4 linked regions of the Homo sapiens genome follow. The protein of the gene in region 1 purifies or fractionates together with the protein of each later gene. This does not show direct contact. Each region holds a gene or a part of one and is shown in the gene's direction. Other genes may lie near its edges.

What was found.
Region 2: the proteins of RACK1 (region 1) and LARP4 purify together in Homo sapiens (affinity purification with mass spectrometry; 5 studies listed by BioGRID and IntAct, with this or other methods). This does not show direct contact.
Region 3: the proteins of RACK1 (region 1) and TNRC6C purify together in Homo sapiens (affinity purification with mass spectrometry; 5 studies listed by BioGRID and IntAct, with this or other methods). This does not show direct contact.
Region 4: the proteins of RACK1 (region 1) and ZCCHC3 purify together in Homo sapiens (affinity purification with mass spectrometry; 4 studies listed by BioGRID and IntAct, with this or other methods). This does not show direct contact.

The regions. Positions count from the first base shown.
Region 1 is NC_000005.10:181,240,902-181,247,853, reverse strand, and holds the start of RACK1 (small ribosomal subunit protein RACK1), read left to right. Parts: upstream 1-3,947; 5' UTR 3,948-4,053; coding exon 4,054-4,162; intron 4,163-4,477; exon of another isoform or gene 4,478-4,540; intron 4,541-5,508; coding exon 5,509-5,680; intron 5,681-5,964; exon of another isoform or gene 5,965-6,036; intron 6,037-6,214; coding exon 6,215-6,362; intron 6,363-6,952. UniProt on the Homo sapiens protein: Scaffolding protein involved in the recruitment, assembly and/or regulation of a variety of signaling molecules. Interacts with a wide variety of proteins and plays a role in many cellular processes.
Region 2 is NC_000012.12:50,396,133-50,403,899, forward strand, and holds the start of LARP4 (la-related protein 4), read left to right. Parts: upstream 1-4,752; 5' UTR 4,753-4,878; coding exon 4,879-4,896; intron 4,897-5,016; exon of another isoform or gene 5,017-5,149; intron 5,150-5,274; exon of another isoform or gene 5,275-5,347; intron 5,348-6,542; exon of another isoform or gene 6,543-6,639; coding exon of another isoform or gene 6,640-6,681; intron 6,682-7,767. Other genes in the region: protein FAM186A, read right to left, coding at 161-352. UniProt on the Homo sapiens protein: RNA binding protein that binds to the poly-A tract of mRNA molecules. Associates with the 40S ribosomal subunit and with polysomes. Plays a role in the regulation of mRNA translation.
Region 3 is NC_000017.11:77,954,190-77,961,720, forward strand, and holds the start of TNRC6C (trinucleotide repeat-containing gene 6C protein), read left to right. Parts: upstream 1-4,513; 5' UTR 4,514-5,079; intron 5,080-7,531. UniProt on the Homo sapiens protein: Plays a role in RNA-mediated gene silencing by micro-RNAs (miRNAs). Required for miRNA-dependent translational repression of complementary mRNAs by argonaute family proteins.
Region 4 is NC_000020.11:292,577-300,582, forward strand, and holds ZCCHC3 (zinc finger CCHC domain-containing protein 3), read left to right. Parts: upstream 1-4,993; 5' UTR 4,994-5,010; coding exon 5,011-6,222; 3' UTR 6,223-7,745; downstream 7,746-8,006.

The DNA.
Region 1 (6,952 bases):
AGGAGGGGATGGATGCCTCTGCTCCTGGAGAAAAGGGCTCTGGCAGGGAAGCCTGAGGGGCTGGTTCCAACTGTACAGGTCCTGTGGACTCCTCAGAAAAGGAATGGTGAGATGGATTTTCATAGGAGAGCCTCTCCAATTTCTCCTTGGGACTTTTTTTTTTTTTTTTTTGAGACGGAGTCTCTCTCTGTCGCCCAGGCTGGAGTGCAGTGGCGCCATCTCGGCTCACTGCAAGCTCCGCCTCCCGGGTTCACGCCATTCTCCTGCCTCAGCCTCCCGAGTAGCTGGGACTACAGGCGCCCGCCACCACGCCCTAATTTTTTGTATTTTTAGTAGAGACGGGGTTTCACCGTGTTAGCCAGGATGGTCTCGATCTCCTGACCTCGTGATCCGCCCGCCTCGGCCTCCCAAAGTGCTGGGATTACAGGCGTGAGCCACCGTGCCCGGCCTCTCCTTGGGACTCTTACCTTGTATGGAATGGAAGTGGTGCCTCTGGGGTCCCAGACACGGGAGAGAGGAAGCAGCCCAGGGGCTGGGAGAAGTGGTGAGACCCAGAAGAACGGTGGACCCAGTCAGGAAGGGTCCTGCCAGCAGGGCGTGGGCCAGCCTCGGGGTCTTCCCCAAAAGGCAGGTAGGGGCCTCCAGCAAGCTTCCCACCTCCGTGAGGCTGGAGAAGAGGCCCCCTGGATGAGAAGGAAGAGGCCGGCAGGTCCGGCGGGCGCAGGCACAGGTAGACTTCTGGTGGGAAAAGCGTGACTCAGCCTCCTCCAGCGGCTGCAGGACGTCCCCCCGCTAGAAAGGGCCGGGCTCCCTTTGCTGACCCAGAGTCAACCCAGCGATTCCTCCCGGGGAGGCGGGGGGCCCCGGCCCCGGCCCAGAGCGCATGCCTATGCCGGGAGCTGGGCGAGGACAGGGCACAGCCACAGCTGGGTGCCCAACGGGAAAGGCGGCCGTTCCCCCTCAAGCTGCACCTGAAGGGGTCCCCAGGGTCGAGGCCACTTCTCCTTCGGCTCAGGGTTGACCTTCAGTGACCACTGTGGCCTGCGGGCATCCCCTGGGAGGGACGGAGGGGGATGGAGGAAAACTCCAAAGGGAAAGGCCGAATCCTGCAGGGTCTGGTCGTCGGAAAGCCAACCATACAGTCAGCCCTCCCTCTCCTCGGGCTGCCGTCGCCATCCGGGTCCACACGGGCTCTAAGACAAAACCCCAATTGCCCCCAAGGCCCCATAGGAGGGGCGCTGCCAGAATCGCCTATTTTTAGTGAAAGAGAACCGGGCCGGGAGACGGCGGCAGGGGGCCGGAGCATTCCCGAGGTCTCGGTCTGGGTGTCGCGAGGCAGGGAAAGAGGGCGGCCCCGGAGCGGAGCGGGAAAGGGGGCGGGGCAGGGTGGGGCCGGACGTGGCAACCTCCCGCTTCCGGGACAGTGACCCGCGGCGCGGCAAGGCCTTTCCCTTGGGCGTGGGTGGGGACCTGGACTCCCTGTGGAACGTTTAAGAAAAAGAGAACCGAATGAGGTTTCGCGAAAGGAAAAAAAATGTAACTGTGATCTAGTGCTGTTGACGGCCGCGAATGGAGAAACCCCGTGTTCTCGAGGACAAATTGGAACTCCTCGGCGTTTTAGGTCCTCAACCCGGGAACCCCTCGCACCGCGAATCTCAGTCCACAGCGGGAGGCGGGTGTGGTCGTTCACCTATTTGTGCCCGAGGGCTCAGGGAGGCGCTGGCATGACCCGAGTGGGGGGCAGCAAGCTGGTTAGCGGGAGGGTGAAGGCAGCGGTCTTCCACGACCACCACAATCACCTGGGTAGGGATTGAGTCCCGTATTGGAAAAGCGAAAGAACAGTCAGCTGGGGGTGCCAAGGAGGCAGGTGATGTATACAAACCTGGAGCCTTAGGATGGTCCACAGGCTGCGGAGGACCACAGCCAGGACAACGTCCCGGAAAGCCCAAGGGAGACTGCGGCGGAAGGCAGGGGAACCTGCAGAGGACCAGGAGAGCAAGCTGTTTCAGGGAGGGATCCTGGCCTTCCCTGCACACCTGGGCGTCTACAGCCTCCGGCAGCTCTGCCACCCTCCCTCGCCTGTCTTCTGCCTTTACGCAGGCTTTCTAGCAGACATTGCCAAGGTTCTTCTCCAGGCCTTCAAGGCCCTAGGTTAACTGCACCCTCCATTTCCCTGCTCTGTCCTCAGCCCCTCCACACTCCAGCTCAGTACGTTGGCACTAACTCTTCCCTCCGATTGAAATATTTTTCCCCCATTTGACTTCCCTCCACAGGAACATTATTCTCCCATATACCCGCAGGGCTCTCTCCGTGTCTCTGTTCCAATGTTCTCCCCTCTTCGCATACCGTAGGAAGTAAACTGCAAATAAAACAAACCAGGGTCCCCCCTCTGTCTTGTTCACAGCTGTGTCCCCAAGACCTAAAATAAGGCCTGGCACCCAAGAGGTGCTAAGTTTCACAACATTTACTCTGCCTTGTTCAGGGCGCTTTACATTTGCTTCTTCACTTTCCACACCACCATGTAATGTAGATACTAATATTATTTCCAATCTCATTTCACAGATGAGAAACGAAAGTTGATAGATGTCACAAATAGAAAAGTATATACTTAGGTATAATGCCCCCTTTATTTTGCATAGATGTTGGTGGCTGCTATCATCCTGATCTGTGCCCCTGTTTAAAACTACTTGAATAGACATGGTGCCAACACTGTCTCTTATAGTCAGAGATGGGTGAGAATGGGAGCCATTACTTATTTAAATTCCTGCGGTCGAGCGGAAGGCAGAAGGACAGTTAGGTATCCGTGTTCCACCGCTTCCCTGTCTGGGCACGTCCTTCAGGGCACAGTTGGACCCCCAGACCCCTGGGCTTTTGTGTACGCTGGCTGGGCCCAGAGAGAGCTTTCCACTAGATGTCCCCAGAAGTCAGAACCTTAAGGTCCTCCTTTGGGCATTTCCGTTTCTGCGAGAGCTTCCCGTGTTCTGGCCTAGGCAGGAACGGATTGGCAGTCTAGCAACACACAGGGCAATTTTTACTTTATTATTTTATTGTATGTATGTATTTATTTATTTGAGTCGGAGTCTCGCTCTGCTGCCCAGGCTGGAGTGCAGTGGCGCGATCTCGGTTCACTGCAACCTCCGCCTCTCAGGTTCAAGGGATTCTCCTGCCTCAGCCTCCCGAGTAACTGGGATTACAGGCACCCCCCACCACGCCTGGCTAATTTTAATTTTTTTTATTTATTTATTTGGAAAGAGGTTGCATCATGTTGGCCAGGCTAGTCTTGAACTCCTGACCTTAAGTGATCCACCCGCCTCGGCCTCTCAAAGTGGTAGGATTACAGGCATGAGCCACCGCGCCCGGGAAAAAGAGACCAATTCTTAGTTCATCCAGAGTAACCCTCTCCTGCCTTAGTCCAGCCTGGACTAAGTCCTTCCGGAGTTGGTGTGCATCAGAACAAAAACCTCGTGAGGGGAGAACACCCTCCGGAAGCACAGTTTTAAAGTTTATTTTTAACATTTTAATACTCTACTTTTTAAATTGCCCATCGTTACCCACGATAGTGAAATGAAAATTAAGCTCCCCTGGGGTTGCCCCGTCAACCCTCCCCGCACCAAGTGGAACAGGCGGAGCTCGAGCTATGCCACATAGGGGCGGGGAAGCAGCCCGGCGGTCCTCATGGGAATGTGCCGTACACTTCACCTCTTTCGCTTCTCGCTCTACATCATCCCTGAGAAGCCTTTTTAAACACTTGAATGTGCTTGTTTCAGAGTGTATTTGTAAAGTGCAGTCAGATTTTGTTGTACGGAAGACGGGACTGTGATGCCTTGCAATTTCCCTCTGCCTTTTGCATTACATGGCGCCGCCATCTTGAGCAGAAATGTATCATGGGGCTCGCCATTTTGCATGGTCGAGCGGGTATTTCCGGTTCCGGCGGGGGGCTTTTCTCTCTCTCTTTCACTGCAAGGCGGCGGCAGGAGAGGTTGTGGTGCTAGTTTCTCTAAGCCATCCAGTGCCATCCTCGTCGCTGCAGCGACACACGCTCTCGCCGCCGCCATGACTGAGCAGATGACCCTTCGTGGCACCCTCAAGGGCCACAACGGCTGGGTAACCCAGATCGCTACTACCCCGCAGTTCCCGGACATGATCCTCTCCGCCTCTCGAGGTACGGACTAAGGTAGATTTCAGGACCCGAGATTGCAGGGCTGGGGGATTCCGCGTGTCGTGTAGGGAATTCCGCGTGTGGTGTGGCAGGCCGGTGGCGCGCGAGTTGGCGGGGACTGACAGACTTCTCTGCCCCATTGTGAATTGGGGCGTGCGGACCCGAGCCTAGGCCTCAACCCGGGCGAACCACATTGCAGATGAGAACCTACGTGTACATCAGCTCGCAGCTGCTAGGAGGGTTGGAGAGTTGGAAACTTTTAAAATATCTTTTGCCTTCTCCTTCGTAGTGTGGCCGGGGGCCTACGGGCCGGGCGGGGCGGTGATGACCCCAACATGCCATCTGAGTGTCGGTGCTGAAATCCAGAGGCTGTTTCTGAGCTGCCGCCCGGCCCAAGGCTCGTGGGGAGGCAGGTGGACTCCAGAGGACCTCGTGGCTCAAGTGTCGGCCTACTTTTTCTGCCCCTGGTTCTCCCCGTCCCTATCCCTGTGTTCCTGACTGCGTTTAGACGCTTCTTGTGCTTCCGCTTTGCTGCTACACTGTTAAGAATTGTCTGACTTTTGAATCATGTCTGGCTGTTAATCGTAAAATTTGTTGAGTGGGACAGGTTTCAGTAAAAGCATCCAATCCTGTAGCGCCTGAAGTGGCTTTTCCAGCATTCATTACTACATTTCTGTCGGCCCTCAGAGGTAGGCATAGGAGGCCCCAGCTACTCTACAGCCACAAACTGCTGTGCATTTGGTTGCAGAGAAGACACAAAGTGGCTGTTGAGTTCGTCTGAGTTTCAGGAAAGGGTGTCTGTATTTCTGGCACCTAAATTAAGTTCTCAGGATACAGGCTGGGCGCGGTGGCTCACGCCTATAATCCCAGCACTTTGGAAGGCAGAGGCGAGTGGATCACTTGAGATCAGGAGTTAGAGACTAGCCTGGCCAATGGTGAAACCGCATCTCTAGTTAAAAAATTAGCCAGACGTGCTGGCAGGTGCCAGCTGGCCAAGTAATCCCAGCTACTTGGGAGGCTGAGGCGGGAGAATTGCTTGAACACGGGAGGTGGAGTTTGGAGTGAGCCGAGATCATGCCACTGCACTCCAGCCTGGGCGACAGAGCGAGACTCCATCTCAAGAAAAAAAAAAGTTATCAGGGTACAGTTTACCTCTACGTGCGTTTTTAGTCTGGAATAGAGCCACTCAGTCCTGGTCTGTAACTGCTCTTGTCTGTTGTTTCCATCCCTCCTTAAGCGTCCTTAGTTGTTGTTAACCCACTCATGACCTTGACACTTAGTGAATTATCCAGTGTGTTAAACGGGCTGCGGGTTCCTCACTGATTTTTCTTCTGTTTTACCTCCTTTAGATAAGACCATCATCATGTGGAAACTGACCAGGGATGAGACCAACTATGGAATTCCACAGCGTGCTCTGCGGGGTCACTCCCACTTTGTTAGTGATGTGGTTATCTCCTCAGATGGCCAGTTTGCCCTCTCAGGCTCCTGGGATGGAACCCTGCGCCTCTGGGATCTCACAACGCAAGTAGCTGCTCACTTAGCTCTGGGGCCTTGGGAAGAATCTGGGCAGAAGTGAGGTGGATGCAATTGGCTGGTTTCCCAGGGGAGATCCAGTCCATTTGGGAACTGGAAAGCAGAGCACACCTACAGAAGATGTTTGGCCTCCCTCACTTTAAATAAGTTACTCAGCATTGCTGAGGAGTGTGGCTGAACATTTTTGCCAGGTGCAAAAGTTCTGAGTGGGCAGCAGTTTGAACATGTTTTACCTTGAAAGCTCAGGTAATTGGCAGGTGGAATTAGAGGGTCCTGGTGATGACAGATGGCATTGTCAGCCAATCCCCAAGTGGGAGTGAGGACATGTCCTGCAATTCTGAAGGGATTCTCTGTCACTTGGCTCTTCTCTTTCATATACTCAGTCACTTGACTCTGTGATCAGAGCCAAATCCAGGGTTGTATGAGTGATGCAATGAGACAGAGACAAAGCCCAGGAAATGAGTCTGACCGTTGAATGAGAGTGTTTGCTAAGTCTGAGAATGACAAACTCCTCCCTCTCAGGGGCACCACCACGAGGCGATTTGTGGGCCATACCAAGGATGTGCTGAGTGTGGCCTTCTCCTCTGACAACCGGCAGATTGTCTCTGGATCTCGAGATAAAACCATCAAGCTATGGAATACCCTGGGTGTGTGCAAATACACTGTCCAGGTAAAGTGAGCCATCTCCAAGGATCTCTTCCACCCTCTTAAACTTTGCTTTTTTTTTTTTTTTTTGGCGACAGTCTCACTCTTGCCCAAGCTGGAGTGCAGTGGCGCAGTCTCGGCTCACTGCAACCTCTGCCTCCCGGGCTCAAGGGATTCTGGTGCCTCAGTCTCCCGAGTAGCTGGTACTACAGGTGCGCAGCCACCACGCCTAGCTAATTTTTTGTGTTTTAGTAGAGACAGGGTTTCACCATGTTGCCCAGGGTGGTCTCAAACTCCTGGGCTCAGGCGATTTGCCTGCCTCGCCCTCCCAAAGTGTTGGGATTACAGGCGTGAGCCCCCACCTGCCTATCTTTGCCTTTTTTTTTTTTTTTCTCGGAGACAGTTTCGCTTGTTCCCCAGGCTGAAGTACAATGGCGTGATCTCGGCTGACCACAACCTCCGCCTCCTGGGTTCAAGCAGTTCTCCTGCCTCAGCCTCCCAAGTAGCTGGGATTAGAGGCATGCGCCACCATGCCCGGTTTTGTATTTTTAGTAGAGACAGGGTTTCTCCATGTTGGTCAGGCTGGTCTTGAACTCCCAACCTCAGGTGATCTGC
Region 2 (7,767 bases), on another chromosome or scaffold:
TCCACAGTCGGTGTCAGGTGAAATTGTCATTTGAAGTCAAAGCTACCCTAAATACAGTCAAATATCATGAAAGTGATTTCTAAAATAAACAAAAATGTACTTGGTCACAGAAAGTTTAAAAAGAAAATTGCAGTCTGTAAACTTCAGATTCACTACCTACCTCTCTGGCTCGATGGAGCTGTGCGCGCTCAATCCTAGAGATGATATCCTTTACTGAGAATGGGATCTCAAGGTTAGGGAGCATCAAAGGACTAAGGATATTTTGGGGCTCTCTTCTCATGATGGTGGAATCCTTGATGCATTTTTCTGATTCAGGGTCATTGTCTATCTCATTTTTCATTTTGAAGAACATTTTGAAAATGTGGGTGATTTCGTTTTATTTCTTCTTTTTCACAGAATCTACAAAAATGCTAATAAAGATATCCAGTAGGAAGCTAGGAGAGGTCTTTCCTGATCCTAGAAGTTGTGGCATACTCTGCTACTAATTGGTGGCTCCCATGATATTCCCGTCCTGTTGATGTCACAATAGACCCATTGTGACATTATCATTGATCAAACATGTAAAGAATGCTTACTATGTGCAGAGAACTGGTCATTCTATATGCTGCCATGGTAGAAGGGTGAGGGGGGAAGGAGGGTAGGAAATAATAGACAACAGGAATGCTAAAATAAACAGAAGATATAGCCCTGCTTAAATAAGCTTAAAATCTAGATGTGTTGGCCGGGTGCAGTGGCTCATGCCTGTAATCCCAGCACTTTGGGAGGCCGAGGCAGGTGGATCACCAGAGGTCGGAGTTCGAGACCAGCCTGACCAACATGGAGAAACCCCGTCTCTACTAAAAAAAAAAAAATACAAAATTAGCCATGTGAGGTGGCACATGCGTGTAGTCCCAGCTACTTGGGAGGCTGAGGCAGGAGAATCACTTGAACCCGGGAGGCGGAGGTTGTGGTGAGCCGAGATCACGTCATTGCACTCCAGCCTGGGCAACAAGAGTGAAACTGTCTCAAAAAAAAAAAAAAAAAAATCTAGGTGTGTCAAATATAACTCCTGGTTCTTCTCTCTTCCTGGGGTTTTGCTTAAGTATTTTTAAGCCTGTAATGGAATAAAGGTTACAACTACTTCCTCAGCTGCCCCTTAACTTTTCCTAGACATGTAGTAACTTGGATGATATCATTTGGATGAAGTAACTTGGATGATATCATTTGGATGAGGATCACACTCTTTGCACTGCTTACTCTTTTTTCTTTTCTTTTCTTTTCTTTCCCTTTTTTTTGGAGACAGAGTCTCACTTTGTTACCCAGGCTGGAGTGCAGTGGTGTGATCTTGGTTCATGGCAACCTCTGCCTCCCAGGTTCAAGAGATTCTTGTGCCTCAGCCTCCCTGAGTAGCTGGAATTACAGGTGCGCGCCACCACGCCTGGCTAATTTTTGTTTAATATTTGCTTCCAATTTTTTTAATAATAAAAAAGCATTACAGAAGGTTGAAGTCCTCTTTGATGTCCCCCACCCCTGGTTCCTTCCTTCCCCACTGTCCCATTCCAGAGGAAATGACAATCATGAATTTTACATATTTGTGTTATCTATTTTTACATAGTTTTACTACAGGTGTATGTATTGTTTTTTCTTTCTTTCTTTCTTTCTCCTTCCTTCCTTCCTTCCTTCCTTCCTTCCTTCCTTCCTTCCTTCCTTCCTTTCTTTCTTTCTTTTTTTTTTTTTGAGGCAGAGTCTCACTCTGTTGTCCAGGCTGGAGTGTAGTAGTGCCATCTCAGCAGACTGTAACCTCTGCCTCCCAGGTTCAAACGATTCTTCTACCTCAGCCTCCCGAGTAGCTGGGATTACAGGCATGCGCCACCACACCTGGCTAATTTTTTTTTTTTTTTTTTTTGAGACGGAATCTCGCCTGTGGCCCAGGCTGGAGTGCAGTGGCATGATCTCGGCTCACTGCAAGCTCCGCCTCCCAGGTTTGCTCCATTCTCCTGCCTCAGCCTCCCGAGTAGCTGGGACTACAGGCGCCCGCCACCACACCCGGCTAGTTTTTTGTATTTTTTAGTAGAGACGGGGTTTCACCATGTTAGCCAGGATGGTCTCGATCTCCTGACCTCGTGATCTGCATGCCTTGGCCTCCCAAAGTGCTGAGATTACAGGTGTGAGCCACTGCACTCGGCCTACACCTGGCTAATTTTTTATATTTTTGGTAGATATAGGGTTTCACTGTGTTGGCCAGGCTGGTCTCAAACTCCTCAAGTGATTCACTCACCTCGGCCTCCCAAAGTTTAGTTGTCAACTAAACTAAATTTGCATTATTCTTTCTCTCTCACTTGCATCTTTTATGCAGCATGGAATTCATCAATCAGCAACTAGACATGAAGGCTTTTCTTTGAGACAAAATCTCACTCTGTCACCCAGGCTGGAGTGCAGAGGCACGATCTAGGCTCACTGCAAGCTCCGCCTCCCAGGTTCACGCCATTCTCCTGCCTCAGCCTCCCAAGTAGCTGGGACTACAGGCGCCCACCACCACGCCCGGCTAATTTTTTGTATTTTTAGTAGAGAAAGAGTTTCACCGTGTTTGCCAGGACAGTCTCGATCTCCTGACCTCGTGGCCTCCCAAAGTGCTGGGATTACAGCCATGAGCCACCACGCCTGGCCATGAAGGCTTCTTAAAGTCAATTTTTAAATCCTGCTTCCCTTTCAATTCGACAAGCATTTGTTGAAACACTATGCAGCTTACATTATCCTAAACTGAAGAATATATGATAGGGTTCCTGTGAAGAAACTAAAACAAAAAAGAAAAGATTTAAGATAGAATATAATAATCAAGTGCTAATAAGGGACACGAAGAAGAGATCTGTAGAAGCAGAATCTTTGAGAAAACCTTATGGAGAGAGAAGGTTGATTGACAAATGGAGGCAATCCAGGTAGGGGCAACACCTTGAGCCATGGCTTTGGCGGTGAGTGCTAATGAGTTTGCATCTTAGGGGGAAAGTAAGGAGATTGGTTTAATCACTGAGATGACTTCACGGGAATTTACTGAGGACCACATTAGGGTGGGCCTGAGATAACAGATATCAGCAATTTGGTGGTGGAATTAATTTGGTATCTGAGGAGATTCCATTTGCGGCAAAGCAAGGAGGATTTCATGAGATCAGAATGGCAAAGTCTTGAAATCAAGTAACAGTGGTTTGGTGAAAATGAAACCTTCACTTTGGGAAGATTTTTTAAATAATAGAATGGAAAAATCCATTGGAAAAGATCAAGACATGATTATTTCATTTTTATTTATTATTATTATTTTTTAGAGACAGAGTCACACTCTGTCACCCAGGCTTGAGTGCAGTGGCGTGATCTTGGCTCACTGCAACCTCTGCCTCCCAGGTTCTAGCAATTCTCCTGCCTCAGCCTCCCACGTAGCTGGGACTACAGGCACACACTGCCATGCCTGGCTAATTTTTTGTATTTTACTAGAGATGGCATTTCACCATGTTGCCCAGGCTGGTCTTGAACTCCTGAGCTAAGGCAATCCACCCGCCTCGGCCTCCCAAAGTGCTAGAATTACAGGCGTGAGCCACGGTGTCCGGCCAATTTTTATTCGTTACTATTATTATTACTATATTTGAGACAGAGTCTCACTCTGTCACCCAGGCTGGAGTGCAGTGGCGCGATGTTGGCTCACTATTAACTCCACCTCCTGGGTTTAAGCGATTCGCCTGCCTCAGCCTCCCGAGTAGCTGGGATTACAGGTGTGCACCACCACACTTGGCTAATTTTTGTATTTTTAGTAGAGATGGGGTTTTACCATGTTGGCCAGGCTGGTCTTGAACTCCCGACCGCAAGTGATCCGCCCGCCTCAGCTTTCCAAATTGCTGGGATTATAGGCGTGAGCCACCCTTCCCAGCCAAGACATGATTATTTCAAAAGATGAGTGTTTGAACTAGGACATACAAGTGGGAGCGATCTATCCTACTACATATTGCTAAAGACAATAAGGAATTTGGACCATCTAACAAAAATTATAGATAATTTTAAAAATTTTGTTTTTATTGTATTTCGTTTGAATTAATGACAGAACGTCAAAGAAGACACTGTCCAGATTAAGTGTTATTACTGGTATATTAAGCGGTGACATGGGTAATTAATTCAAATGAGCCTGGGGCAAAGTTCTTTAAAGGGAAACCCGACCTCCTAGAGGGCTTCTTCAACTGTAAAATGGGGATGATAATAATAGTGTTTATTGCATAGAATTGTTTTAAGATCAATTAACATAAAATGCTTAGTATAGTGCCAAACACAATGTAAGCATTTAATATACATTAGCTGCTATTAACATATTTGCTAGTATCATAGTTTTTTGTTTTTTTTTTCTTGTCTACTTTTCTTCTGTGAGCCACCACTTTTCGGCAGGGTTGGTTTGTTCAGTACACTTCGCCAAGGTCGGCTTTAAAAATCAAATCTAGATTGTGAACTATGAAAACTGCGGAATTATCAGTGCTGTGTAGCTATCTGACAAGTGATAAAATGTGTCATTACGATTTTTACACATCCCCGTGCCACAGAATGGCGTCTCCTTCTAATCGTTCCCCCCGACAGATGATAGTACATCCCACACTGCTGCTGGAAAAGATAGTGCAAAAGTTGAGCGCGCCGAGGGCTCTCTTTTCTCCCGGAAACAATTTTTCCCTAGACCCGGAAGCAGTTGTTGTTTCAAGGGAGGTGGGACTGGGCGGGTCAGGCCGCAGCGGCTGACGGCAGGGGAGGAGCCGGGTCCACTGCCGGGTGGAGGGGCAAGGCGAGTGTGTGTCCTTATCCTAGCAATTGGGGCGCGGGCCTGTGAGCCAGTTGGAGTTGCGGCGGCGGGAACGATTGGGCTGAGCAGAGGACGACATGTTGCTTTTCGTGGAGGTGAGTGCATTATGCTAGTCTCGTCCTGCTCTTAGGAGAGCAGGAGTGTAGAGGCGCCGGCCGGTCCCACCGCCATGTGACTTTCCGGGCCGTACACGCCGCGGAACCGGCAGATAGGCTGACACAGCACCTGGGCCGAGCAGGCCTGCAGCTTCCCTCTGCGCGCTCACAACACTCTAGGAAGCTATGGGAGGTGAGGCCCGTAGTGGAGAAGAATTGAAGGAGAAAAACGGAGGGCTGTTCTGGTGTGGCGGTGAGGTTCAGAGGAAGGGGAAAGTGTCCCATATGGACCTCCTAAAGGAGGCAGCATTGGGGGGTTGGGGGGCGGAGTCTGAGGGAGGAGAGGGTAATCAGGTGGGCGCGTTCCGGGGGCCGAGCGCGGCCTCGCGGGGCCCCTCTGGGAGGGAGGCGAGCAACATGTGGGGCCACGGATGGAGAAAGGTGAAATGCGGTAAGTATTTTGAAAAGAAAATTGAAAAGTTCTTTTGAGCAACTTCCACCAAATTCTGCCCGGGCCCCGTCCCTAGGTCTCTGGAACGTTCTGTGGGTGAAAGCGAGTTACTTTGAATCGAGGAGAAGCCAGTAGGGTTTGGAAGCCTTGAAAGGCACCGCTTTGACCTTTTGTAAAAGTTACTCAAGCAGCAGCTGCGTGATGAAGGGTTGGTTCTATGAACCGATTAAAAGCCCTTTACAAGGAAAATTCCAAGAATGAGGGAAACTTATTCCGGGAAAAGCCGTTTTTTGTAATGTTATTTGAACAATGAGACACTTTTATTACTTAAACTAGAACGTCTGCTGTTGGCCTATTTTAGTTTTCAAGATAGAGTTGGATACCTGCCTTACAGAAATACGAAATTTAATTTCCCTTAATTCTGTCCTCTTGTGTGCAGTGAGCGTCAGCTGACTGCCTGGCTAATGCTTTGAGTAGATTCCAGATCATATTGTTCTTACATTGTGAAAACGTCAAACCAGCAAAGCTGCAACTTCGCAACTTGGCATTTGTTAACTATGCCCATAAGAAGAATCTTTTCAATGAGGGAAGGAATTTACGGGTTGTATAATGAATCTAGGAGCCGGGGCCAGCCTATGGCAGATTTTTTTTTCCGGGTTGTGGGAAAATCTTACTCCGTAATATTCCAGCATAAAGTAAATAAATGATTTTACGGTTTTTTTTTCTCTTTAAACTAACTGATATTGTGTCGCCGATAAGCTTGATATCTTTAAATTAGTTTTTTAAAAGACTGCTACATTAGAGTGTATCTAACATTCATAATAAACATTCATTGGAACATTCCGGGGAAATCATGAAAAGACTTAAAATTACTGAACTCATTCTGTTTACTGTTTTCTGTCCTCATTGTTGTTTTCCTTAGGCAGAATAAGAAATCAGATAAGATTTTAAGCCAGTGCCAGCCAGTTTTTTTAAGGAATGTTATGCTATGTAAATACCACAGGTTTTAAGTGTGTGTTTTGCTGGGCAGAAGAAAGATTGTGAAGTTTATATTGACAGGAACTCCACAATATACTTTTGACTTCCAAATTGATTCCTTTGGCTTTATTAAAATGTAAGTTTTAATAACAGCTCCATTTATTGTTTAAACTAGGTCTTCTCCTGTCTCTAAAGCGATACTTAATATGTTTTACAGATGACAAAACCGAGCCCCAGAGGTTAAAGTAACTTTACTTAGTAAAAGTAAAGTAGTTTAACTGGGATTTAGATCCAGGTCATGCTGATGTCAAATCATGGACGGGATGTTAGCAATTCAGGCCTGTCCGACTCCCCAGGTTAGACAAATTCTATCGTATCTCTCGCCAAACTAGTGTTTAAAAGTTGTATCTCCATTAATCATTTTCTTTGTGAGTCACTATGTCATTCTTCATTTTCTCATATGAGTTTTATTGAAAATTAACTGTCTTTAAATATTTGGGGCTGAATATGTGGTATTAAAATCAGTGAAAAACAACATGTTGGTCGTTTGGCGTTTTGTTAACTAATATTTGATCCCTGTAACCTCATGATAGAGGAATTATTCTCAGTGAGAGAACCAAAGCTCAGAAGTTAGATGTCTAAGGTCATTCAAGTGTAAATAATGTGGGGGCTAAAGTCTGAAGTCTGACTTCTAGAACATAAATTTCTGGCTTCAAAATTATTTTTGTACTTTCCCATAAGTCAAAGGTTCTTAATCTAGGTTTTTGGATAGAATTGAGGAAGTAAGTACCTAAGCTTGGTTGAGGAAAAAAATTTGCGTGTTTATTTTCTCTAGCTTCTAACTGAAATCTAAATGGAAAAGAAGTGAAAATTCTTTAAATGTTAATGGCAGCAACAGTGTATGTGACCTTGTCACCAAGACAAATCACTTTTTTACATGTATTACAGCTTTTGCAGTTATCTTGAAATATTTATGCTCATTACTTGCTATATGTCAAAAATATTGTTAACGTATTGCTATATTAGACATTTTAAAATATTTTGATAACTGCGTTTCAATATAATTGGTTTACTTTGTGATCCTATATATTTTAGAAATGTAAAAAAACGGAGAAGAGATCCATAGATTAATTGGACTACTAAAGAGGTCTGTGTCACAGAAGAGGTTAAGAACTGCTTTACTAAACCAACTTGCTTGTGGATCATCTTTGGCAGGGTTAATCTGGGATCCCTGGGTCCTCTGCAGTTGTGTTCAATACCTTTTACTTATGTGTATTTTTCTGGAGAGATTCCAGCTTAACTATCCCACTAGAATCAGTAGGATAGATAATAGCAATATAACAATAACAACAGTAGTAGTATATACTTGTATCGTGCTTTGTGTCAGGAACGTTTGATGTTTTTGCATATATAGATATCTGTACATCTTAAGTCTCAATATC
Region 3 (7,531 bases), on another chromosome or scaffold:
GCTACTTGGGAGGCTGAGTTAGGAGAATTGCTTGAACCCGGGAGGCAGAGGTTGCAGTGAGCCAAGATTGTGCCATTGCACTCCAGCCTGAGTGACAGAGCACGACTCCATCTCCAAAAAACAAAGATAATAATAATAATCTGGCCTCTGCTCATCTCTCCCATCTCCTCTTACCTGGGCTGTTGCAGCCCCACTAATGTCTTCCAGCCCCCTGAAAGTGCTGCGCTGCAAGCTCTCTTGGGTTTCCTTTACACTGACCTTTCCCTCTTTCTTCAGTGCCCTTCCATCAGCTTCTGACCTATTACTGCTTTCCCTTGCATCTTTCAAGACTCAGATCTGAGGCCCTTGGAGAAGTCTTCCTGAGCCCTTCAGAATGACCTGAGTCTCTTCTGTCTCCTGCAGCACCTCCATGCATTGTAATCATAGCTCAAGCACGGCTTGCAGCTTTAAATCCCTGGCACCTAGTTCGCTGCCTGGCACGTAATACACGGCAATTCAGCAAGTATCTCTAACTCAGTGAGGAGTACAAAGGAGAAGTCAGAGGCCCAGAAACTTGCCTAAGGTCAAACAATTAGTGAGCAGTGGAGTTGAGACTCACCCTTACTTTTATTGTAAGGTTCTAGTCTCTATTCCAATATTATTATCAGCATAGTGGGAGGACAAAGGCATCAGAATCACTTGGGGAGCTGATTAGACATGCAGATACATGGGCCTCATCTGGACCTAAGGTGAATTTGTAATTCAAACAAGCTACCCTGGCGATTCTCATCAACAGAAAGTTTGAGAACCGACGCCCTGTGCCTTGCTGCTTGTCTGAAAGGCCTCTGTAAATTTATCACATTTTTCTAAGTCAGTTCAGTTGCTATCTATCGGTGACAAGCAGGGAGAGCTGAGCCCGGCTTTCTTACATTTTCATTGAAAAGCAATCATTTGTTGGAGTCCTGAAGGTTTTCCCTTTAAGAGTCCATCATTAGGATGCAAATTATACGTGTAAAATCAACAGAAATAGGAGGATGGAGTAATTCAGGCACCAGTGTGTGGTAGGAAGTGACTGGGCATGGAGAGGGGTATTATACGCAAATACAGCCCTCAAAAAGGTGTCTTTATTACTCTCCTCCAATTTTCATCGCCTCAGAATCATCTGGAGGGCTGGCTAAGATGGAGATACCTGGGCCCCATCCCCAGAGGTTTCGATTCACTGGGTCTGGCAATGGGGTCTGAGAAGTTGCCCTTCTAACAAGCTCCTAGGTAAAGCCAATGCCGCTGGTCTGGGGGAACACACTTTGGGAAACCCTGAGCTAGTCAACACAGTAATCTGTTTTGCAATAGTCATGGAGATAGGGACGTGATCATCCTGTCTTTCCACTTAAACCCCTGCACAGATGTGGATCTTGCTACCTTTCTAAATGGAGTTTCTTTTTCTTCCCATAGCTTGTTGGAGTACAGGTGGTATTTGGTTACATGAGTAAGTTCTTTAGCGGTGATTTGTGAGATTTTGGTGCACACATCACCTGAGCAGTATATACTGCACCCTACGAAATGGAGTTTCTATTAATAACTCCATTTGATAGAAACTCCATTTTGTAGGGTGCAGTGTATATTTGAACTAATTTGCCTAATATCTACCACCCACTGATCTCAGGTTGGCTTCTCAGGATTTCAAAGAATATATCTGTACCTATTTGCATACAGGAGTTTCAAAAATATCTGAAAAGAGCCATCCTGGCCTGCTTGTCTCTTCTTCCCTGCACCAATCTCTTCTGCTTCTTCAGCTGTTGGTCAGACTGGAGGATTTCCATCAACAACTGGCTGTATTCTGAGTCAGTCTCTAACTTTGTCGATTTCTTTCTTGCACCCTGGTGCTCAGAACTGGCCAAAACACTCCATTTGGGATCTGACCAGCTCAGAGTGCAATCTCTTAAACTGGACACTATTTTAACGTAGTGTTGTTGTCGTCTTCAAGCAGTTCACACATTTAGCCTTGTTGAACGTGTGGTCATCTATAACTAGAATTTTTTACATTACCTTGTATCCAGCTAAGTCTTCTTCATTTGTCCTCAACTAGTTGACATTTTAATTTAAGAGACACATTTAACATTTAGTCCTCTTAAACGTAATTTTGTTGGTTTTACCCTTTTTTTTTTTGAGACAGAATCTAGCTCTGTCATCCAGACTGGAGTGCATTGGCGCCTTCTCTGCTCACTGCAACCTCTGCCTCCCAGGTTCAAGGGATTCTCCTGCCTCAACCTCCCAGGTAGCTGAGACTACAGGCGCCCGCCACCATGCCTGGCTAATTTTTTGTATTTTTAGTAGAGATGTCACCATGTTAGCCAGCATGGTCTCCATCTCCTGACCTCCTGATCCGTCTGCCTTGGCCTCCCAAAGTGCTGGGATTACAGGCGTGAGCCACCATGCCCAGCCCTATAGATGATCAACTTATACCTTAGTTATAAGGTGGTGGTGGCAGGGCTGATAACAGGATGACCAACCCGAAACATGAACGTACCCATTTTTACAGTTGTGCCTGGGGTTCCTACTCATACTTTATCAGTTCAAACAACCACTAATAAGTGACACTGCTCTGCAGTCTTAACATTCATGGCCACCATATGCCTCAATGTTTCTGGGTCAACTTTAGTTTCAAACATTATCTCTACTGTCACAGGTCCACATGCCAAACTATGAGTCCAGTTTGGGGTTCAGAACATATAGTCTCTATAGTTCTGCCTTTTCTCGGTGCTCAGAGTCTAATATCATTGGAGAAGAGGACGATTTTTGCCTGATTAAACTGAGGGAGGGGGATAAGAAAGGGAACCAAAGACAATGCTAAATAATGTATTTTGGTTCAATTTTCCAAAAAGTGAAGCTCTGCTTATCACAATGATTGGTCCACTCTGGTCCACCCAGATACCTGGATTCCTCATTTATGTAGCAGCAGTCTACTTCGTGGGCGCTGCCTATTTTGAAGATGTTATTTTGCACTCCCTTCTGGAGCATGTGATAATACCTCTACCTTTGAGAAATACAAAAGATGTAGGTTCTCTGCAGTCGAGAATTAAATGAACGTAAATAAAATGAATAGACAAGGCAGAAGCCTCCATGTCAGCTCCCTCTGCCTTCAGATCCTTCTAAGGGATGTGGGTTCTCGGGAGGGGAAATACACAACACGATACAACAGACATTTGACGACCCTTTAGAGGCTGGTTGTGAATCTGACTACCGGAGGGCTTAAAATATGGCAGTAAGAAGAAAGGAGCTCATGGGACCCTGAAGGGAAACGAGAGCGGGGAATTTGTCTCTTTCATCCACAGTCGTTTCAAAGCATGACACTTGCGGTAACAAAATTGCATTGCGAAAGTACTAGTGTGTTATTATCTCCTCTTCAAGACAGGGACACGTAGACAGGGAATGGCCTCTTCCAATACCAACTTCCAAGTAGCACTGCTGATCCTCCACTGAACGATGGGGGAAAAGCTAGCCTGCTTCTGCGACCTTGCATGAAAATGGAGAAAATTCTTGGTTTCAAAATCTTCTCCTGGCTTGAACCGAAAGTTAAAAAGGGACTTTTCGAATTGCACATTGCGCCTGACCTTACCTACCACTAATGAATAATGGATATCGAGGAGCCGTGGAATGGAGGATCACGGCGGCGTACGGAGCACCGGGGAGGAATCGTGGGGTGCGTAGGCGCCGGAGCGCCCGGGTTCGGCCCGGACCGAAGGCTTGCGCGGTGAAGGTGTGGTGTCTGTGCTCCGGGGAAAGGGCTGTCTCCCCGGGGGACTGTTTCGCAGCGAGGCTTGTTTTGCTCGCAGCTGGGCGCTCCCTGGGGAGCGACTGAGCGCAAGGGCGGGCCGGGAGGCGCGAGGCGAGCACGATGCTCCAGGGCCCCAAGGACTCGTGTGCGTGTGCGTGTGCAAAGTGGGGCGGTGCAGGGCGTGTGCACGGCACGGGCGAGACGCGCGCCGGTGCGGGCGCCGGGCGCCGCCGGGCGCAATTACAGCATAAAGCCCGGGCGCCGCGGGGCGCTGGCCCGGAGAACCCACCGGACGCGCAGAACCGGATCGGCACCCCTCCCGCCAGCACCCTAACGCGGAGCCACAGCGCCCAGGGACCGGAGGGCAGGCGGCGGCGGTAAAGGACACCACGCAAGTCTCCACGTAACCCCCCCGAGCAGTGCAAGCTCCCAGGACTGGCGCGCGTCCCGGCCACTCGGAGCGCGCACCGCTCGCACCCCGGCGCGCTCCCCGCGCGGTGCAGGGAACCACAGCGCGGGCGGGTATTAAGGGGAAAGGAGGAGGCGTGGCCTGGCCGAGGAGCCAATGGGCCGGGAGGGGCGCGCGGGGGAGGAGCTCAGGTGCAGAGTGCCGATTGGCCAGTTCGCCCTCCGGTATGCAGATACGGTGGGAGTCACGTGCTAGGGGCCGGGACGACTTCCTGTTGGAGGCCAACGCGGGGCGGGGAAGGGGGCGCGAGCGCCCCGTCTGGCTGAAGCGGGGGGAGGGGGGTTCTTGTCAGTTAGAGCAACAAGATGGCCGCGGTGGCAGCTCCGCACCTCAGCGCGACGGCCCCGGGAGCCGTAGCCGCCGCCGCCGGCCCCGCCGCCGCGCAGTCTTGAGCGCCGCCCGGGCCGCCCCCTGACAGGGCAGTCCCAGCGCCCGCCGCGCTCCCGCCGCCGTCACCGTCGCAGTAGCCGCGGGCCCGCCCGAGCCGGAGGCGGAGGGAGCGGAGCGGCCCCGCGCCCAGCCGTCCGCAGCTGCCACCGCCGCCGCCGCCGCCGCCTAGGACCCGGACCCCGCCGGAGCCGCATCCCGCCGGGCGTGAGGAGGAGGACGCGTCGCGGCGTTGCCGGGGCCGGACCTGGACCTGCCGGGACGCGCCGCCGCCCACTCGCCCGCGCCGCCGCCGCAGCCGCCGCCGCCGCCCGCGCCGGGACCTGAGTCCGTGGCGCCGGCGCTGAGCGGGCCCCCGCCGCCCGCGCACTCCCGAGGCCCTCGGGCGGTTGTTCGTGCCGCCGCCGCCGCCAGGCCCGCGCCACCGGAGCCCCGCGGAGCCGCCGCCGCCGCCGGGGACGGAGCCCAGGTGAGCGCGGCAGTCCGCCCGCTCCTCGCCGCAGCCGCAACTTTGCCGGGAGGTTCGCGGGCCCTTTGTTCGGCCGAGCCGAGCCGGGGCGGGCGCTGGCCCCTAGCGACCCGCGTGCGGCGCCAGGCCCCGGGCCGGCCGGGTTTGAGGGGAGCGGCGGGAAGCGGCCGGGGCCGGGGCGCGTGTGTGCTAGTGTGAGACGGGGCTGTGCAGACGCCCGGTGTGCATCACAATCAAACGGGAGTGGAATGGAGGGCTGAAGATGGATGTGCCCCCTCCCTTTTAAAACTCATGCAGCGGTGAAATTCGGTCCTTTCCGGGCAGCCCCCCGCAGATTTTGCACTGGTGATGGCAGGCGCGAACCCGCCGTGTTTTGGTGCAGGAGCCCGGTGCCGTTGTTTGGGGGAAGAGAAAAACCCGGGGCGTGCTGCGGGTGGGCGGAGAAGGACCCCTGGGCGCTCTGCGGCTCTGAAATCAGGTGGATTTTCTAACGGTGCTGCGGACTGCGGAGTAATGCGTATGAGGAAAACGAGCCGTACAACATCTGTCCTGTTATCAGATAACGTAACCCGAGCGCCTGGTTGCCGCCTCTGCTTTAAGCGGTGCCTCCTTTGCACCTTTACCTTGAGGACGAGATTTAATTAATTGATTCGTAGCTATGAAAATGTGCAGATGTGGATGTGGGGGTTCCCTGCCTGTTAACCTGGGGAAGAAATAACTGGCAAGCATGTTACACGGAGCTTTGGGGATCTTAGCAAAAATGAAGGCTTGCTGCTTGGATGTTGTGCCGGGAGGTAGGGGAGGAGGAGCCGCTAGATCGTGGCTGCACCTATTGCATTCGAAGGCATTTGACGGTATTGGTGATTCTGCACGTAATTAGTGGAGTTGTCTCAAACCTTTGCCTCCGCCAAATGAAACCTCCATTTGAGTGGTCCGCTCGGTTATTTCTAGGCGTGAACTGCGGATTCTAAACTCAAAATGGTGCTCTGTAGATGTCCAACTTCAGCGTCTTTAAGGAGTTGCAAGTTGGAGCCTTCTGACTGGGTTAATCCATTGTGTAGCCGAGGTTCGGTTTTTCTCGAGTGTCTGGTGTTCACGTTGACGTACTTCGGCCAGTACAAGGTAGCCAATTTATGGTGATCGCTGTGAGAGCCTCGTACGTCCCTGAATGTAATTTGAGCCTGCATAAGGCCTACTTTATGCAAGTGATTTCCTGCAGTTGGAATTGAATAACTATGCGAATGAGTTGAGACCCTGGAAACCTGGCTTGAGTGATTTCAGAGGACAGTGGTAGCTGGTTTGAAATGTGTAGGGGGTGTTGGCAATGATATTCATAGATTCCGGATTTCCTTCAGTACTGTATGAAAGAATAAATGATAAAACTTAGCCCCAGGCCAGATGAACTTGGTTAGTAGAGGGCACCTTGAAGAAATTTACATTGTTCCAGAACAGCAGAGGTGGCAATGGTCTTTGAGCATGTTTCACTGTAGCACCCCTAGGATGCTTTGTTGGGGGAAATAATGCAAAACAGGGTTTTTAAAATGACTAGTTCAGTTGTCGGAATTAATTTTGTGTGTATTAATAGAACAAAGTAATGATGTGAACAGTTGTAACTTTACCTATACTGAAAGTTTTTTTTCTACAGAAAGTTTTTAATATTTATTTTCATAAGAATAGACATTCTTGGAAGCTGTTTTTCATACAGATTTCTCATGACCTGACCATAGGCATAGTCAGGCCGTGAGAAATTGATAGCTCAGAAAACGGTAATAGTAAACACACACACACACTCGTTTTTATTATAAGGATCTGATTTTAAAAGCTTGTTTGTAACTCTTCTGTGCTTCTTGTCCAAAACAAAGACCTTGCTGACCTTACCTCGGTTTTACTTTTTTTTTTTTTTTTTGAGACAGTTTCGTTCTTGTTGCCCAGGCTGGAGTGCAATGGCACGATCTCGGGTCACTGCAACCTCCGCCTCCCGGGTTCAAGCGATTCTCTTGCCTCACCCTCCCGAGTAGCAGGGATTACAGGTGCCCGCCGCCACGCCCGGCTAATTTTTGTATTTTTAGTAGAGACGGGGTTTTGCCATGTTGGCCAGGCTGGTCTCGAACTCCTGACTTCAGGTGATCCGCCTGTCTCGGCCTCCCAAAGTGCTGGGATTACAGGCGTGAGCCACCACGCTCGGCCGGTTTTACTTTTAAGGTATGAAATTAAATACGGTTGATACTGAGACTGTCTGTCATAAGGTTTAATCTTAACAATTTCATTTCGGATTCTGCCATTTAAATATTCTGGTAGTAACCTGGAGTATATGTAAGTGTTGGTTTTAGATTTTCGTCCTTCGTGTTTATTGCGGGGGGCGAGGGTGGGTTTCGAGTAGCATATGTCTTAACACTAACATCATTTCGAAACAGGTTTACATTTATATTTAGTTGGCTTAGGAACTTTGGAG
Region 4 (8,006 bases), on another chromosome or scaffold:
GGATCACCTGAGGTCAGAAGTTCGAGACCAGCCTGGCCAACATGATGAAACCCCATCTCTACTAAAAATACAAAATAGGATTAGCCAGGCGTGGTGGCGGGTGCCTGTAATCCCAGCTACTTGGGAGGCTGAGGCAGGAGAATTACTTGAAGCAGGGAGGCTGATGTTGCAGTGAGCCAAGATCACGCCACTGCACTCCAACCTGGACAACAATAATGAAACTCCATCTCAAAAAAAAAAAAAAGTAAAAGATAGGAATACATGACAGATCCAGGTAGTGACTTACTCAACAGCCATTCCTCCCCATCATCGCAACTATTGGATCCTGATCTTGTCCATGTATGCACTTGCCTTAATGGAGGCAGGCCCCAGGTCCAGCCCTAGTCCTAGTCCCAGCTCCAATAGTCATGACTGTCTGAGGCTGGACTTGGTGAGCCAATTTCCCTTTCCAGTTAGAGGTCTAGTCATAGATACATGATGAAAGTCTGGCTAAGAAGACAGGATGAGAAATCTACTCAAAGGCTTTTGGGAAAGGTTTTCATCACACTTTTAAAAAAAGGCATTGCAGAAAAACATTCCTTCATCTGCTGGTAGACATTGTCATATCTGTGTGGGATTCCTGGAATCGCGGAACTGTGAGGGGAGTTGGCCAAAGAGGATATACAGTGAATGGTAGAGAGGAAAATGTAAAAACCTTCTTCCTTGATAGCACTGTTGAGCCATTAAATTAACCAACCCTAGCCTGGCACAATAGTATGTGCCTGTAATACCAGCTACTTGGGAAGCTGACGCAGGAGCATCGCTTGAGGCCAGGCATTTGAGATCAGTCTGGGCAACATAGTGAGACCACATCTCAGAAAAAAAAAATTTTGTTTTAATTAGCCAGATGTGATGATGTGCACCTGTAGTCTCAGCTACTTGGGAGGCTGTGGTGGGAGGATTGCTTGAGCCCATGAGTTTGAGACTGCAGTGAGCTATGATTGTGCCACTGCACGCCAGTCTGGGCAACAGAGTAAGATTCTGTCTCTAAAAGAAATTAATTAATTAAATTAACCTTTCACCTATCTAGAAAATACTTGAGATTAAATAAGAAATCACATTACTGGGTGAGCAAATTTGAGTTGAGTTTTCTGGTACTTGCAGACCAAAAGCATTTTACTGAACCCTACGTCTGGAGGAACAACAAGATAGAAGGAACCTGGGTGGGTCCCTGACAACCTTGCAGGAGAAAGTCACCTACCTGTCCTTACTGCCTGCCAAATTCCGAGCTGCTTCATCAAAGAGAAATAAACCTCCACCTTGTCTGAGACCCTGTATTTGAGAGTCCCTTTGTTACAGTAGCTTAACCTGTACCTTGATTAATACAAAGAAGAGCTTGGCCACTGTCAGACAGCCTTCCTCATCAGACATGCTGACCCAGCATGGACACCCACTGAGAGCTGCCTGTGCCCCACATCTCAGGTACTTAACCAGTAATATTACTGCCTCCCACTTCAATTTTTTTTTGTTTTTGAGACAGAGTTTCGCTCTTGTTGCCCAGACTGGAGTGCAATGGCATGATCTTGGCTCACCACAACCTCTGCCTCCCGGGTTCAAGTGATTCTCCTGCCTCAGCCTCTCGAGTAGCTGGGACTACAGGCATGCGCCACCACAACCGGCTAATTTTGTATTTTTAGTTGAGACGGGGTTTCTCTATGTTGCTCAAGCTGGTCTCGAACTCCTAACTTCAGGTGACCCGCCCGCCTTGGCCTCCCAAAGTGCTGGGATTACAGGTGTGAGCCACCGCACCTGGCCCCACTTCAAATTTTTAAAAAAAATACATAAAAACATTTGCAAAAATGCTGCCATCTTAATCAAAGCCAAAACACACTTGAGGGGCCACTGACAATCACCTGTAACAAAGCTGTTGGAACTGGGATTGAATCAGATGGGGTCCATTTGCACTTACACCTGTTCAGGTGGCATTTCTGTGTTCACGAACACCTGATGGAACTTCCTGCCCCCAGGATAGGTGGGCAAGATGAGCTGGCCTTTCCTCCCTGCACATGTGAGGTGATAAATGTGATAGAGGGCCTCTCAGGCCTGCTTGGCTCCAGGCTCAGCAATGGCAACCTGGGCTCTGATTCCATCAACATCTTGCTGAGAGGTGGACTAGGCTGAGCAGGCAGTCTCGGGCTTCCATCCATGTCATTTGATGTGCTGGCTTTGTGGCAAATGTGCACAGCATCCTAAACCCACAATCCCTACTGTTGTCACTGGGTAAGATGCCGTGGTTCTTGTGGAGACACCTGCTATACTCGACATAACAAGATCCTAGACATTCCTTCTTATCATCTGCACAGCCCTCCAGAGCTGCTCTCTCCATACGGCCTCAGTGCCCATCCGGACTGCTCTCCTTGCAGGGTACCTGCCTGGCCCCTGTAGCTCCTGATGTAATAATCTCTGCAAAATTTGACCTGGAAAAAATGAAACTGACCAAAAGGATGGCCCTACACATACCAATGAAATTGTACAACAGAAGAAGATATGATTAGCAAAATTGGACATGGAGCCAGAACCTAATCCACAAGTCAAATATTTTCAAAATACAGACAGATGCCTTTAAAGTCCAACACAAAACAAAAATGCTCAAAATACGTTGATTATATGAGAGTTCCTGACTAGTGCAGTAAGACAAGAAAAAGTATAAGATTTGAAAAAAGAGACAAAACCTTCATTATTCACAGACGATATGATTGGCAATACAGAAAAGTAAAGAGATTCCAAAAACCACTGGAAATTTTTTAAGGTTTCAACTTTGTTGCCAGATATGGGGTCAGTACACAAAATTCAATCGTGTTTCCTCTAACGGACACCAACAAACCATATGTAACTTCTGATTTACAATAATTTCACTTACAATAGCAGTCAAACCACGTGGTACTTTGGAATAAATCCCCAAAAGTATGTAAGACCTTTATGAAGAAAACTATAATATTTTATTGAAATTCATAAAATAAGGCCTAAATAAGTGAGAAATCAAGTGGGGTCATTGATGGAAAGACTCCGTGTTATAAAGTGGTAATTCTGTACAAATGCAGTGCAACGCCAATTAAGATCTCATAGTTTCCTGGAACTTAGTAGGCAGGTTGTGAAATTTATATGGAGGTTCCAAATATAGCTGAGACCATCTTAAAGAAGACGAAAGAGAGAGAAGAATGTTTCCCATAAAAGAAGAAACTGGAGTTCAGATTTCTCTTTGGAAACTGAAAGATCCCCCCACAGTGGACCCTCACTTCTGGAGAGGAATATTCAGCTACAGTTGACTAGCAGTTGCCCCTTCAGATAGAATATTCGATCTCCAGTTCACCCAGTATATCTTCTACTTAAGGCACCTGCCTGACCCTTGCAGATATTTGATTATGTGATAGTTACCTGGAGTGAGGGCTTAAGATAAGAGGAATGGAAGAGATTGTTTAAAATACATCTATTGTTTGGTTGTGTAAGTATTCTCCTCATGGTGAAACTTGACCAGGCAAGTAGAAAGAATAACAGAGAAGTATGTGAATCTAAGACATTGATGTTTCTGGTAATGGTGAAGTTCCGAGTATGATCACGGGAATGCGTGGCTGAGAAGGGATAAAGGAAATGGTGCCTGAGGATATAAAGTGAGAGGACTGGAAAGTGCAAACGGCCCAAGTCAGTGGCTCCCCTGAGACCAATACCAGCAGTTGGGATGAAGGGAATCTGCCTGTTAACAAGGTTTCCTAGGATCTGATGCACAGTTCTTGATCCACGGCGTCAGAAATAAAGTGGTTAAATAAATATAAGCTACCGGCCGGGCGCGGTGGCTCACGCCTGTAACCCCAGCACTTTGGGAGGCCGAGGCGGGCGATCACGAGGTCAGGAGATCGAGACCATCCTGGCTAACACGGTGAAATCCCGTCTCTACTAAAAATACAAAAAATTAGCCAGGCGTGGTGGCGGGCGCCTGTAGTCCCAGCTACTCAGGAGGCCGAGGCAGGAGAATGGCGTGAACCCGGGAGGCGGAGCCTGCAGTGAGCCGAGATTGAGCCACTGCACTCCAGCCTGGGCGACAGACCAAGAGTCCGTCTCAAAAAAGAAAGAAAGAAAGAAATATAAGCTACCTATACGTGGGGCTGCCTATTAACTCCGCCAAGTGACTTAACTCCTGCCTCTTTATCTGTAAAATGGGCATAATTACAGCATTGTTTTTGGAAGATTCCATGTAATAAAGTCTGAAGTGTGCTTAACACAGTACTGGGAACTTAAGCAGCACTCACACTTCATCCTAAATACGACGAAAGTCTTTTCAAAAAAATAAAAATTAATGCAATATGACTTACTTGGAAATGTATCAAAAAATAAAGACCGATGAATGGATCGAGGCGTAGTGTGACAGAGTAAAATTTTAATGATAAAAAGTTAATGGTAAAATGTTCACTGTAAAACTTTCAACTTTTCTTCTTGAAAACGTGCATAATCCGACGTGGGAAAAAAAATAACGCATTGCAGTCAGTTCTGGGGAAACGGAAAGCTAAGTTTTAATTTTGCTATTGCTTTTGCTTTTTTAACAGAAAAGGTACAAAAAAGAAAAAATGGGAGAGATGTTGCCGAACTCCGTCCCGCCTGTGGGCTGTGGGCCGTTAGCAAAGCTGCTAGCATGAAATCGTCGAGCACCGCTTGCGAAACGCCAAATCCTCGAGAGCGAGGCCGGAGGCTGCCAAACCCGCGCTGGGGAAAGGGCCGCCTCCGGGCGCCCCATCCCGCTGCGGACGGAGGTGAGGTTGGAGCGAGCGCTGGCGGAAGAGAGGCTCAGCGCAGGGGGCGCAGAGCCGGCGCTGGCCAATATGCGCCGCATGTGATACCTTTGAGGGCGCGGCGGGGGAGGGTAGCGTCAAATTTCAAAAAAAAAAAAAAACCAAACCCACACAGCCCCGGCGGGCGGGCGCGCGCGATGGGCGCCCTTTGGCTGCGGGAGCGAGTGGAGGATGCTGGGAAGGAGGTAAAATGGCCACCGGCGGCGGCGCGGAGGAAGAGAGGAAACGGGGGCGGCCGCAGCTTCTGCCCCCCGCGCGGCCCGCGGCCCGGGGCGAGGAGGCCGACGGCGGCCGCGAGAAGATGGGCTGGGCCCAGGTGGTGAAGAATCTAGCCGAGAAGAAGGGCGAATTCCGCGAGCCGCGGCCGCCGCGGCGGGAGGAGGAAAGCGGCGGCGGTGGAGGGAGCGCCGGGCTCGGCGGCCCCGCGGGCCTGGCGGCGCCGGACCTCGGCGACTTCCCACCGGCTGGCCGCGGGGATCCGAAGGGCCGTCGGAGAGATCCGGCCGGCGAGGCGGTGGACCCCCGCAAAAAGAAGGGCGCTGCGGAGGCGGGCAGGAGGAAGAAGGCCGAGGCGGCGGCGGCCGCCATGGCGACCCCGGCCAGGCCCGGCGAGGCCGAGGACGCGGCCGAGCGGCCCCTCCAGGATGAGCCGGCGGCGGCGGCAGGCCCGGGCAAGGGTCGCTTCCTCGTCCGCATCTGTTTCCAGGGAGACGAGGGCGCCTGCCCGACCCGGGACTTCGTGGTAGGAGCGCTTATCCTGCGCTCCATCGGCATGGACCCGAGCGACATCTACGCGGTCATCCAGATCCCGGGCAGCCGCGAATTCGACGTGAGCTTCCGCTCAGCGGAGAAGCTGGCCCTGTTCCTACGCGTCTACGAGGAGAAGCGGGAGCAGGAGGACTGCTGGGAGAACTTTGTGGTGCTGGGGCGGAGCAAGTCCAGCTTGAAGACGCTCTTCATCCTCTTCCGGAACGAGACGGTGGACGTGGAGGACATTGTGACTTGGCTCAAGCGCCACTGCGACGTGCTGGCCGTGCCGGTGAAAGTGACCGACAGGTTTGGGATCTGGACCGGGGAGTACAAATGCGAGATCGAGCTGCGCCAGGGGGAGGGCGGGGTCAGGCACTTGCCAGGGGCCTTCTTCCTGGGGGCCGAGAGGGGCTACAGCTGGTACAAGGGGCAGCCCAAGACATGCTTTAAATGTGGTTCCCGGACCCACATGAGCGGCAGCTGCACGCAGGACAGGTGCTTCAGGTGCGGGGAGGAGGGGCACCTGAGCCCTTACTGCCGGAAGGGCATCGTGTGCAACCTCTGTGGCAAGCGAGGACACGCCTTTGCCCAGTGTCCCAAAGCAGTGCACAATTCCGTGGCAGCTCAGCTAACCGGCGTGGCCGGGCACTAAACACCCGCCTGCCTGCCAGGGTGAACACACAGCCAGCTTATCCCTCTTAAGTGCCAAAACTTTTTTTTAAACCATTTTTTATCGTTTTTGAAGGAGATCTTTTTAAAACCTACAAGAGACATCTCTCTATGCCTTCTTAAACCGAGTTTACTCCATTTCAGCCTGTTCTGAATTGGTGACTCTGTCACCAATAACGACTGCGGAGAACTGTAGCGTGCAGATGTGTTGCCCCTCCCTTTTAAAATTTTATTTTCGTTTTTCTATTGGGTATTTGTTTTGTTTCTTGTACTTTTTCTCTCTCTCCTTGCCCCCCTCCCGCCCTCCCCGCCCCATACCTTTTCTTCCCCTGGATTTTCACCCTTTGGGCTGCCTTGCTCATCTTTATGCCCCAGCACTAGGTACGGGGCCCAACACGTGGTAGGCACTCCATCAGTGTTTGCTGAATTGAAAACATTGTTGACTGTGGCTTCTATCAGAGTGTCTACCTTTTGCAGCTCTTCCCCTCCCTCATTTAATTTGCTGCTTTTAATCTACGTGGTCTGAGAATTTGTGAAACCAGTGTTGTTAGAAGTGTATATAATCTGAATCAATAAGCTCTGAATGGTGGCCAAGGGCCTCTCTTATGGCACAAAGATGCATGGACTTCATGACAGCTCTTTTGGTGGCTCAGAAGCCATTTTTTATAGAATCATGGAATCTAGAATATTCCTGCTGGAAAGAACCTGAGAGTTGGTTTGGACCAATTCCCTGGTTTTCCAGCAGATGAAACAGGCCCAAAGAGGTTAAATGACTGGGTGAAAATCACATAGCTGTCTGGTGCCAGAGCCAGCCTATAGTAGAGTCCCCTGACCCCAAGCCCGGTGCTCATTCCACTACCTCTCACACTTCACAACAATTTCCTCAACACTTGAGGGCCCAGAAAGTCTGATCTCTCCAGAATGATCAGCCCAGAGGAATGCTGAGAAATCACCTGGAGGAGGGAGCAGAAAGAGAAGGTTTTTAAGGAGGGGCTTCTGAATACTTGGGAGATACGGAACGGACCAAGGACCACACTCCAGGGTGCATTCGTTGCTCCCTGGGGCACCACTTCTGGATTACAGTGTGCCAGGTCCTTTGGAGGCCCTACCCCTTCCCCATTCATTGCCACCAGTGAGAAATGGGGGTGCCCCTGTGTAAAGAAACCTACCAAAGGTTTACATTTGCACCTTAGCCTCAATAGCTACGAACCCTAGAGAAGCAGCTAGCTGGAGCTCATGTGCAACTCCTGATTCTCAGGAGAAAGATGGATTTTAACCCAAAATTATGAGTGAGCTGTTAACTCTAAAATGTACTTGGGAGATAGGCCAAGCGAGAGGTCATGGGCCAACTAAGTGTTATCCAGTAGAAAAGACAGTACACTGCTTTTCTTTTAGTGTTTGCTTTTCCTTTGCTATATGTTTTGCTATTTCCTTGTGGCTTAGAATGTAAAATTGATTGTTAAAAGTTTTGTTCTGAATAAATATTTATCTTTTGTATTGCTAAAACTGGTGCACTATTTCCTTTCAAAGTGTTAGATGCACAGTTACCCAGCTCCAGACCGTATTTCAATCCCACTTCCCCTACACTCCATTTGTTTACCTTGCTAAATACATTTCCCACCCCTGCAGGCAACACTTAGCACCTACTACGTTGTGCCGGTCCCTTTGCATCACAATCAGCACACTGTTAAAACGGGTTTTAAGTCCTAACACAGTTCCAATAAATCAGAATCACTGTTAGAGGAAGTGAAACATTTTAGTTAATCA